Linked DNA regions of Homo sapiens: region 1 is linked to region 2. Evidence: fine-mapped expression QTL. A gene starts in region 2. The other region holds a variant in brackets. All regions are shown on one strand. Distances are from middle to middle.

The links. PIP is the estimated chance that this variant, and not a neighbour inherited with it, causes the effect.
Region 1: its variant is the best candidate, but not a certain one, in a credible set for the expression of JUN in whole blood (INTERVAL, PIP 0.87).

Annotation. Positions count from the first base shown.
Region 1 is chr1:58,997,351-59,002,873 of GRCh38, reverse strand. It overlaps the pseudogene PHB1P3. Among named protein-coding and RNA genes, the nearest start is that of LINC01358, 20 kb to the left of the region's middle. The variant C/T (reference allele first, on the strand shown) is at 2,821.
Region 2 is chr1:58,782,114-58,787,113 of GRCh38, reverse strand. It overlaps JUN (Jun proto-oncogene, AP-1 transcription factor subunit), which reads left to right and starts at 3,067. Exons shown (of 1, transcript NM_002228.4): 1 at 3,067-5,000. The coding sequence starts at 4,044. It overlaps JUN-DT (JUN divergent transcript), which reads right to left and starts at 1,963. Exons shown (of 2, transcript NR_108106.1): 1 at 1,809-1,963. RefSeq lists enhancers at 1,876-2,621, 2,848-3,107, 2,622-3,369, 4,778-4,957 and a silencer at 4,628-4,707.

The DNA.
Region 1 (5,523 bases), 220 kb before region 2:
GAGTAATTGCTCTAAAGTAAAGCATTGCAGTGGATTGTTCGTGTGGTTGACCAGTTCAGGATTTGGGTCTAGGCTGCCTGGTTTTCATCCCAACTCTTATTTTCTAGCTTTCTGACTTGGAGCAAGTTATTTAACCTCTCTGGGTTTCAATTTATCTCTAACTGAGGATAGGTGTGCAAGCTTCATAGGGTTGTTGTGTAAAATAAGTAAGCTACTACTTCTAGAAGTTAGAGCATTACCTGGCATGTGGTAACTGTTTAAGAATTACTAGCATCACCTGCGGGAAGCCCTCGAAGACCTATTCTTTCCTCCTCCCCTACGCTTTGTGCTTCCGTAAGATCCTGAGGACGCTTTTATCAGTGTTTATATATTTTAAATATATAGTGCTTACATAGTTAAAAAACTTGCTGGGCACAGTGGCTCATGCCTGCAATCCTAGCATTTTGGGGGGCTGAGGCGGGCAGATCACCTGAGGTCAGGAGTTCGAGACCAGCCTGGCCAACATGGCGAAACCTTGTCTCTACTAAAAATACAAAAATTAGCCGGGCGTGGTGGTGCATGCCTGTAATCCCAGCTACTGTGGAGTCTGAGGCAGGAGAATCATTGAACCCAGGAGGCAGAGGGTTGCAATGAGCCGAGATTGCACCACTGCACTCCAGCCTGGGTGACAGAGCCAGACTCCTTCTCAAAAATAAATAAATAAAATAAAATAAAAAACTATAAAATATTCACTATACAGGAAAATACAGACAATGTAATGAATGGTCATGTCTCTTTCATTTTGCTCTTCAAATCTTATCATTTTGTCATATTTGATTCAGATTTTTTAAGAAGAGTTCGAACATTACAGTAAAGCTGCGGCTCCTTGTGTGTCAATCTCCAATCCTATTCCCTTCTGTCACTCCCCAGATGTGGCCACTATCTGATTTTAATATTTGCTATTCCCTTGCAAACATTTATACTTTATCCATAAGCAATTGTAATAATTTTGCATATAGCAAAACTTTATATAAATGATATCATACTATAAATATCCAGCAATTTTCTTTCTTGGTCAACATTTTATCTTTGGGATTTATTCATGTAGAATTATGTACTCTATTTTTGTAGTTGCCATTTACCATGTTAAGGAAGATCCCTACTATTCCTAGTTTGCTGAGTCTGCCATAGATAGATATTGCTTTTTCTGCATCTATTATCATGTAGTTTTTCTTTAGTCTGTTAATAGGGTGGATTACAGTCTTTGATTTTTTTCGATGATGAATCACCTTGCATTCTTCATATTAATCCCACTTGGTTGTGAGCTATTATCCTTTTCATATGCTACTGGATTTGATTTGCTAATATTTTGTTTAATTTTATTTTATATTATTGTGCTGTGTCTGGTTTGGATATCAGGATAATGCTGGCCACTTAAAAGGAGTTGAGAATGTTCCTTTTCCCTATTTTTTGAAAGCTTATATACAATTAACTTTTTTTTAATGTTTGGTGCAATTCACCAGTAAAACCACTTGGACCCAAACTTTCCTTCATTGGAAGGTCTTTAACTATAATCTCAATTTCTTTAGTAAATATAGGACTACGTAGGTCATATATTTCTTCACTAGTGAGTTTTGGTAGTTTGTGTATTTTACGAAAATGGACCATTTTATCTAAGCTGTCAAATTTATGAGTTATTTATAGTATATCAATTATCCTTTAAAATCTGTGAGTTCTGCGGTGATAGCCTCTTTTTTGTTCCAGATATTGGTAAATTATATCTTTTCTCTTTTTATCTTATGCTTTCTTCATTCCTAAAGTCCAAGTATTTTTGTTGTTTTATCATTCCCTCTCCACCTGAAGAACTTCCTTTAGCATTTATTTTAGAGCAGGTCTACTAGTAACACATTTTGCTGATTTTCCTTTATCTGAGAATATCTTAATTTTGTCTTCGCTCCTGAAGGATATTTTCACTAGATATAGAATTCTGGGTTTGCAGCTCTTTTCTCATAGGCCTTTAAAAATGTTGTTTCACTGTTTTCTGGTCTCCACGGTTTCTGATGAGAAATATGCGATCATTGTTCCCCAATGTTTTCTGGTTTCTTTCAAGATGTTTTTCATTGTATTCAGTTTCATCATGTGTCTTGGTGTATTTTACTTTGAATTTATCTTGTTTGGGGTTTCTTGAGCTTTTTAAAGCTGTAAATCTATGACTTTCATCAAATCTGAGAATTTTTCTTTTTTTTGAGATCTGAAGTGATTTTACCTTTAATTCCGTCACTTTAAGCCAATCATGAAATTTCACAGTGATTTCTGGGGTGGGGGCAGAAGGAAGTCGATGTTAAATATCATCAGGGCTGTGGTCCAGTCAGCCTGTGGAGGTGCAGGCAAGGTGGGCCCTCACTGGGGCAGCTGGAGGAGCACGGACTGCCCCGCTGGCAGGTAGGTGATGTTCTGAGAGCGTGAGAGCTGGTAGGCGATGTCCTCCGCAGCTTACAGCTTGCGCAGCTCGATCAGGCCGTCCCCTGCAGTGGCCAGTGAGTTGGCAATCAGCTCAGCTGCCTTGGAGTCACCCTCAGCAGAGATGATAGCTGCCTTTTTCTGCTGCTTAGCCTTTTCCATCACAAATCTGGCCCTTTCTGCTTCCTGCTGAGCCACCTGTTTGGCTCCCACTGCTTCTGTGAAGTCCTTCCTGAAGGTCAGATATGTCAAGGACACGTCGTCCAGGATGAGCCTAAAGGTGGCTGCTCACTCCGTAAGGTTGTCGCTCACCTGCCTGGAGACCAGCTCTCTCTGGGTGATTAGTTCTCCAGCATCAAAGCAAACCACCACTGACTTGAG[C/T]ATCTCAGTTGTGATGGATGGCAGCACAGGCTCATCATAGTCCTCTCCGATGCTGGTGAAGATGCGAGGAAGCTGGCTAGCGACGGGCTGGAAGGGGATGTGCAGTGTGATGTTGACATTCTGTAAATCTTTGCTACCAGTGATGACTGACACATTACGTGGTCAAGAATGGCAGTCAAAGATAACTGGTTTCTGTACCCAGAGGATGAGAAAGTGAGTCCCTTCCCCTACCACAATTTCCTGTACTCCACGGAATCGGTCAAGGATGACAGCTCTGTGCCCAGCATCCACATTATATAAGGCAGAGTTCACCACGCCTCCTGCAACAGCTTAGACCAGGCCAAACTTGCCTATGGACTCAAACACTTTGGCAGCCATGTTTTCTTCTGCTGGACCTCTCACACCTGTTTCCACTTTGACCTCCACATGAATTCCCCCGAATCTGAGAAGTTTTAGCCGTGATTTCTTCAAATATTTTTCTAATACTAATCTCTTTCTTCTCTTTTCTATCATTCTGTCATTTCACTCTGATGACATGAATGTTACATCTTGTGATATCAGGCCACTTGTCCCTGAGACTGCTTATTGTTTTTCAGTTACTTTTCTGTATTTTTCAGATTAGATAGCTTCTATTGATCTATCTCAGTGGTCAGAAAACCATGGTTCACAGGACAAATCTAGCTTGCCTGTTCATTAAATAAAGATTTATTGAAACAGCTATTTCCATTAATTTACATATGATCTATGGCTGTTTTCATGCTATAATTGTAGAGCTGAGGAGTTATGACATAGTTTATGGTCATTCAATTCTAAAATATTTACTATCTGTTCCTTTACAGGAAAAGATGGCCAGCCTAATTCCTCATCTTCAAGTTCACTGACTCTATCTCCATTATGTTACTGATCTCCTTCAGCGAATTATTTTATTTCTATCATTGTATTTTTCATTATAAAATTTTCATTTTTTTTCAATAGCTTCTCTTTGCTGAAAGTGTCCATCTTTTCATTTGTTTCACTATTCACTAATGCTCTCTCCCACTTCATGGAGCTTAATTATATTTGTGTGTGTGTGGAGGAGGTGTGTATGTGTGTGTGTATAACAGTTTCTTAGAGTCTTTGTTTATTCCACCATCGGTACCTTGGTCAATTTGGTGTTGGTGTGTGTTGATTGGTTGATTGTCTTTTTTCTTTGAGAGTTGGTGAGATTTTCTTGTTTTTTTTTTTTTGTTATTTGTGTATTGATTAATTTTGAATTGTATCTTAGACATTTGAATTATGTATAATTCTCTAGGTCCTGTTAAGATTCTTTGAAGAGGCTGGGTGTGGTGGTTTGCCTGTAATCTCAGCACTTTGGGAGGCCAAGATGGGTAGGTCACTTGAGCCCAGGAGTTTGAGTCTAGCCTGGGAAACATGGCAAAACCCTGTCTTTACAAAAAATACAAAAAATTAATCAAGCATGGTGGTGTGCACCTGCTGTCCCAGCTACTTGGGAGGCTGAGATGAGAGAAGTACCTGAGCCTAGGAAAGTTGAGGCTGGAGTGAGCTGTGATCATTCCATTGCACTCCAGTGTGGGTGTTGCACTGAGACTCTGTCTCAAAAAAAAAAAAAATTCTCTGAAGAATGTTGATTTTTTTCTAAAGCAATTAAAAGAGTTAGGCTCATACCCCAACTCCCAACTTACTTTTTGTGGGATGAGGTTCTAATGCTAGCTTCATTTTCAAAGCCTTTGCAGTGCTATTAGGGTCTGCCCCATGTGGACACTATCCAGGGGCTGGTCTGGGGCCTAGGAAACGGCCCACATTGTAGTTCAGACTCAAAGCCTTCATTATACTGTTTTGGGTCAGTTCCTTGTACGTGAATCCTGCGAGTGAGCCCAGGATTTCATACCCAGATTTAAGAGATCTCTTTTTCCATCTCCCTCTTCTCTATGATTTCCCCACTCTTCCATATGCAGGGTCACATTTTCCTGTTGTGCTGGAGAGAAAGCCAGGGTTTTAGCCTCCTGTGCTGTCAGACATTTTTCACAACTGTGTCCACTTTGAGAATGAAGCAGTTAGAAAAAGGAGGAACAAAATAATGGAGACTGCTTCACAGTCTTTAGACTGCAGGGGTCTATTTTCCCAGTTCCTTTGGTCAGAGGGAAGAATTTTCTCTTACACTTTTTATTGCCTAAGAACCACTGTTGCCACCACTGCTGCAGGAGTATAGTTCATGACTAAGTCTGGCTTTGGCACCAAGCTAGGAGAATAAAAAAAGTAAAATGAAATGAGAGTACCCCTACAGTCTTTGTCCTGAAGGGCCCGCCCTCCCAGTCTTCCAGCCAGAAAGAGAGAGTTCATCTTGATGTTTTTCTGTCCATGTTTACTGCACACTTCAGAGATCCAGGCTGCCCTAGGGTTTCAGCTAGGAGATATAGCAGGGGGAGAAAACCTCAGGACACTTAACCCCCTAGTGATGGTTGATTTTATGTATCAACTTGACTGGGCATTGGGGTACCCAAACATTTGATCAAACATTATTTTGGGTGTGTCTACAAGGTTTTTTGTGAATGAGATTAATATTTAGATTGACAGACTGAGTAAGCAGATGGCCCTCCCCAGTGTGTATGGGTATCATCCAATCAGTTGAAGGCCTGAATAGAACAAAAAGACTGACCTTCCCATGAATAAGAGGGAGCTCATCCTGCCTGACTGACTTCGAGC
Region 2 (5,000 bases):
TGAGACACCTGGTAGGATTATAGTGATCTAAAGAGGCATGGCCATGTGACTGCTTTGGCCAATGATGTATGGGCAGAAGTGATGTGTGCCATAAGTGGATGCTCTGACAGCCATGATGTTCCGAGTTCCTTCCCCACAGTCAGGATAGCTGTGAAAAGGGGTATCAACACGAGGCCTCCTTCAGCCTGAGCCCTTTAGTGACTACAATGAGCAGAGCTACCCTGCCAACCTACAACGGTCATGTAGCAGAAATGACCAACTTTCACTGGAATAAGCCACTGATATGTTAGGGTTGTTTGTTAGGGCAGCATAACACTGCCTTTCCTGACAGAACTGGGAGTGAGAGATAAGGCTGGAGAGAGAAGGAGTTGGATTGTGAAAAGCCCCTTCTCCAAGGCATAGGAATCGGAACTCTCCTGATTGTAAGGAAAAGCCAATGAAGGCTTCCAAGCAGGGGCGTTAACATGAACAGATTTGTTATTTTTTTGGATGAAATATGCTATTTCTCAACATAAGGAGAAGATCAGCCTACTAAACCACATGAGGCAGAGAGGAACACACAGAACCTTAGGCAAAAGATATATATTTATGCAAAGTCCTAAGTCTTGAAATTTCTAAATACAAGAGCTCTGAACGGAGTTACAGTCAGAGGATCAGGCAAGAAAATTTCTTCTATGCCACAAGCGCTATTTCCTCTGCAGATAACTAATACTCCACAAGAAAGTTTGCCAGAGTAGAGAAAATACAAAGGAATGTAACACAGACCTGAGGTCAATTTCCAGCTGCCTGTGTGACCTCAACAAAGATACTTAACCTCTCTGGGCCTATTTCCTCACATGTTAAATCTGGATAATAATATATGTCTCTCAAGACAGTTGTGGGGAGAAAACAGCGTATTTAAATTGCTTAGGAGAATGCCTGGCAGATAATAAGTGTTTAATACATGAAACTGATTTTTATTACTGTTATTAAAAAATATTTAGAACACCAACTCCCTGAATACAACAGAAAATGATTCAGGGCAACAGACAGAGGAGAATGTTCTCTCCTTGAGGAAGCAACTGGATCTTGTCATCACTGTATACCTACCTACCCCACCCCCTCCCCAGCTCAGTGCCTGGCTCACAGTAGGCTTTCAGTTACCCTCTGCAGATCAGTGAAAGCTAGGTGAGTGCCCGGAGTGAAGAAAAGTTGGCAGGTTTCCCACTGATACCAGCTGCTGTTGGTTTCTGAACACTCAAAGCCGCAAATACCTTAGGGCTGGGGGCAATGAACCCAAGGCTGAATTCCAAGTTCAGAAGCAGCGAAGTCTGAATTTAGAACCTAGGAACTTAAACTGCTGCAGGTCCAACTTCAAGCCCCAGTTTTAGACAGAGGCTTGGGAAAGATCTGACTTCTAACCCGGTTCCCCCTCCCCTCCTCCCCTCGATGCTTCTCACAGGAAAGTACACCTGGTCCTGCCAAATCGCACTCTTATATCCTGGCATCCTATCCAGGCTCTGCGAGGATGGAAACTGCGAGGCAGGGGAGGGAAGCGGGCTGTTTGGCCACCACCTCCCTAGTGCTGCAGGCGACCCTGTCACACTAACTCCTGGCAGCCCAGTGAGGTGGACGGCACCGGCCCCACCTGCAGATGAGGGAAATGAAGCTCGGAGGAGTTCCGTGATTTGCTTGCTTCACACTGTGGTAGCCTGGCCACGAAAGAACCAGGATTCCCGACTTCGGGATTCTTTCCACCACACACTTTCGTCCCTAAGGGGTGGGGGGCGGGGGGAGAATAAAATAACCGCGGAAAAGGAACCACTTACATGTGTCTAGCGCTTCCTAGAGGCTACCCAGGATATGCGCCCACCACCCGGCCGGGAGTGCAGAGATTTGAAGTCCAGGTTCTACCCCGGGCTCCGAGTACTACTGCGTGACTTTATGCGAGTGTCCGCCGCCTTCTGGGCTTGTTTTCCCGGAAGCAACTCGGCGCGGATGGAGTGTGTGTGTGCGCGCGCGCGCGCGTTATGTTGTGCGTGTTGTGTTAAGCGTGTGCGTGTTGTCCGGGGGCGGGAGGGGGAGTAGACTAACACCGGGGTTCCCCGAGTTTCGGATCGCCTACACGCTTGTTCCCATCTGGACCCTGTTACCCACCAATTGCGCCCACTATAAAAACTGCCCCTCCGAGGCAAAGCTGTGAACCCCCGCGCCCTTTCCCCCACGGTCCCGGAGGATGAAGTGGGGTGCAACGGAGACTCAGCTGAGCGTCCAGTTTCGGGCAATACAAATCTCTCGGCTTCTACGAGCAGCCAGACGACCCCGCGGACCGTCGCTCCTGAACTTGACCGAGATGCAAACTTCGGAGTGTTCTCAACGTGGGGGGCCGACTCTCGGGAGACCGCCCCTAAACTTAAGTCCCCTTAGGCTCGCCCCCACCTGGGACTTCACAGAGCCACCTTAAGGGCGGTATTCCCGCCCCCCCGGAAGTGCGGGGGGGTGGCAGCGTACTTGGATTCTCAGCCTCCAGCCCCGCGCGGTGGCGGCCGCCGGTGGATGACTTCGGGCCCCACAAGTGGGGAAACAACAACCACCCCTCGCCCGCACCCCTGGCCCAAAACAACTGGCCAGGTTCCCTGGCCTCCCGGGTCCCTGCATCCCCCGCATCCCCGTCCGCAGCCGTGAACTTGAGCCCCCCTCCATCAGAGGTTGCGAGCGTCCGCCCGCTCGCGGCAGCCACCGTCACTAGACAGTCAAACCCCAAGACGTCAGCCCACAATGCACCGGGCGGGCCGGGAAAAACGGCCCGGGGAGGGGACCGGGGAAGAGAGGGCCGAGAGGCGTGCGGCAGGGGGGAGGGTAGGAGAAAGAAGGGCCCGACTGTAGGAGGGCAGCGGAGCATTACCTCATCCCGTGAGCCTCCGCGGGCCCAGAGAAGAATCTTCTAGGGTGGAGTCTCCATGGTGACGGGCGGGCCCGCCCCCCTGAGAGCGACGCGAGCCAATGGGAAGGCCTTGGGGTGACATCATGGGCTATTTTTAGGGGTTGACTGGTAGCAGATAAGTGTTGAGCTCGGGCTGGATAAGGGCTCAGAGTTGCACTGAGTGTGGCTGAAGCAGCGAGGCGGGAGTGGAGGTGCGCGGAGTCAGGCAGACAGACAGACACAGCCAGCCAGCCAGGTCGGCAGTATAGTCCGAACTGCAAATCTTATTTTCTTTTCACCTTCTCTCTAACTGCCCAGAGCTAGCGCCTGTGGCTCCCGGGCTGGTGTTTCGGGAGTGTCCAGAGAGCCTGGTCTCCAGCCGCCCCCGGGAGGAGAGCCCTGCTGCCCAGGCGCTGTTGACAGCGGCGGAAAGCAGCGGTACCCACGCGCCCGCCGGGGGAAGTCGGCGAGCGGCTGCAGCAGCAAAGAACTTTCCCGGCTGGGAGGACCGGAGACAAGTGGCAGAGTCCCGGAGCCAACTTTTGCAAGCCTTTCCTGCGTCTTAGGCTTCTCCACGGCGGTAAAGACCAGAAGGCGGCGGAGAGCCACGCAAGAGAAGAAGGACGTGCGCTCAGCTTCGCTCGCACCGGTTGTTGAACTTGGGCGAGCGCGAGCCGCGGCTGCCGGGCGCCCCCTCCCCCTAGCAGCGGAGGAGGGGACAAGTCGTCGGAGTCCGGGCGGCCAAGACCCGCCGCCGGCCGGCCACTGCAGGGTCCGCACTGATCCGCTCCGCGGGGAGAGCCGCTGCTCTGGGAAGTGAGTTCGCCTGCGGACTCCGAGGAACCGCTGCGCACGAAGAGCGCTCAGTGAGTGACCGCGACTTTTCAAAGCCGGGTAGCGCGCGCGAGTCGACAAGTAAGAGTGCGGGAGGCATCTTAATTAACCCTGCGCTCCCTGGAGCGAGCTGGTGAGGAGGGCGCAGCGGGGACGACAGCCAGCGGGTGCGTGCGCTCTTAGAGAAACTTTCCCTGTCAAAGGCTCCGGGGGGCGCGGGTGTCCCCCGCTTGCCACAGCCCTGTTGCGGCCCCGAAACTTGTGCGCGCAGCCCAAACTAACCTCACGTGAAGTGACGGACTGTTCTATGACTGCAAAGATGGAAACGACCTTCTATGACGATGCCCTCAACGCCTCGTTCCTCCCGTCCGAGAGCGGACCTTATGGCTACAGTAACCCCAAGATCCTGAAACAGAGCATGACCCTGAACCTGGCCGACCCAGTGGGGAGCCTGAAGCCGCACCTCCGCGCCAAGAACTCGGACCTCCTCACCTCGCCCGACGTGGGGCTGCTCAAGCTGGCGTCGCCCGAGCTGGAGCGCCTGATAATCCAGTCCAGCAACGGGCACATCACCACCACGCCGACCCCCACCCAGTTCCTGTGCCCCAAGAACGTGACAGATGAGCAGGAGGGCTTCGCCGAGGGCTTCGTGCGCGCCCTGGCCGAACTGCACAGCCAGAACACGCTGCCCAGCGTCACGTCGGCGGCGCAGCCGGTCAACGGGGCAGGCATGGTGGCTCCCGCGGTAGCCTCGGTGGCAGGGGGCAGCGGCAGCGGCGGCTTCAGCGCCAGCCTGCACAGCGAGCCGCCGGTCTACGCAAACCTCAGCAACTTCAACCCAGGCGCGCTGAGCAGCGGCGGCGGGGCGCCCTCCTACGGCGCGGCCGGCCTGGCCTTTCCCGCGCAACCCCAGCAGCAGCAGCAGCCGCCGCACCACCTGCCCCAGCAGATGCCCGTGCAGCACCCGCGGCTGCAGGCCCTGAAGGAGGAGCCTCAGACAGTGCCCGAGATGCCCGGCGAGACACCGCCCCTGTCCCCCATCGACATGGAGTCCCAGGAGCGGATCAAGGCGGAGAGGAAGCGCATGAGGAACCGCATCGCTGCCTCCAAGTGCCGAAAAAGGAAGCTGGAGAGAATCGCCCGGCTGGAGGAAAAAGTGAAAACCTTGAAAGCTCAGAACTCGGAGCTGGCGTCCACGGCCAACATGCTCAGGGAACAGGTGGCACAGCTTAAACAGAAAGTCATGAACCACGTTAACAGTGGG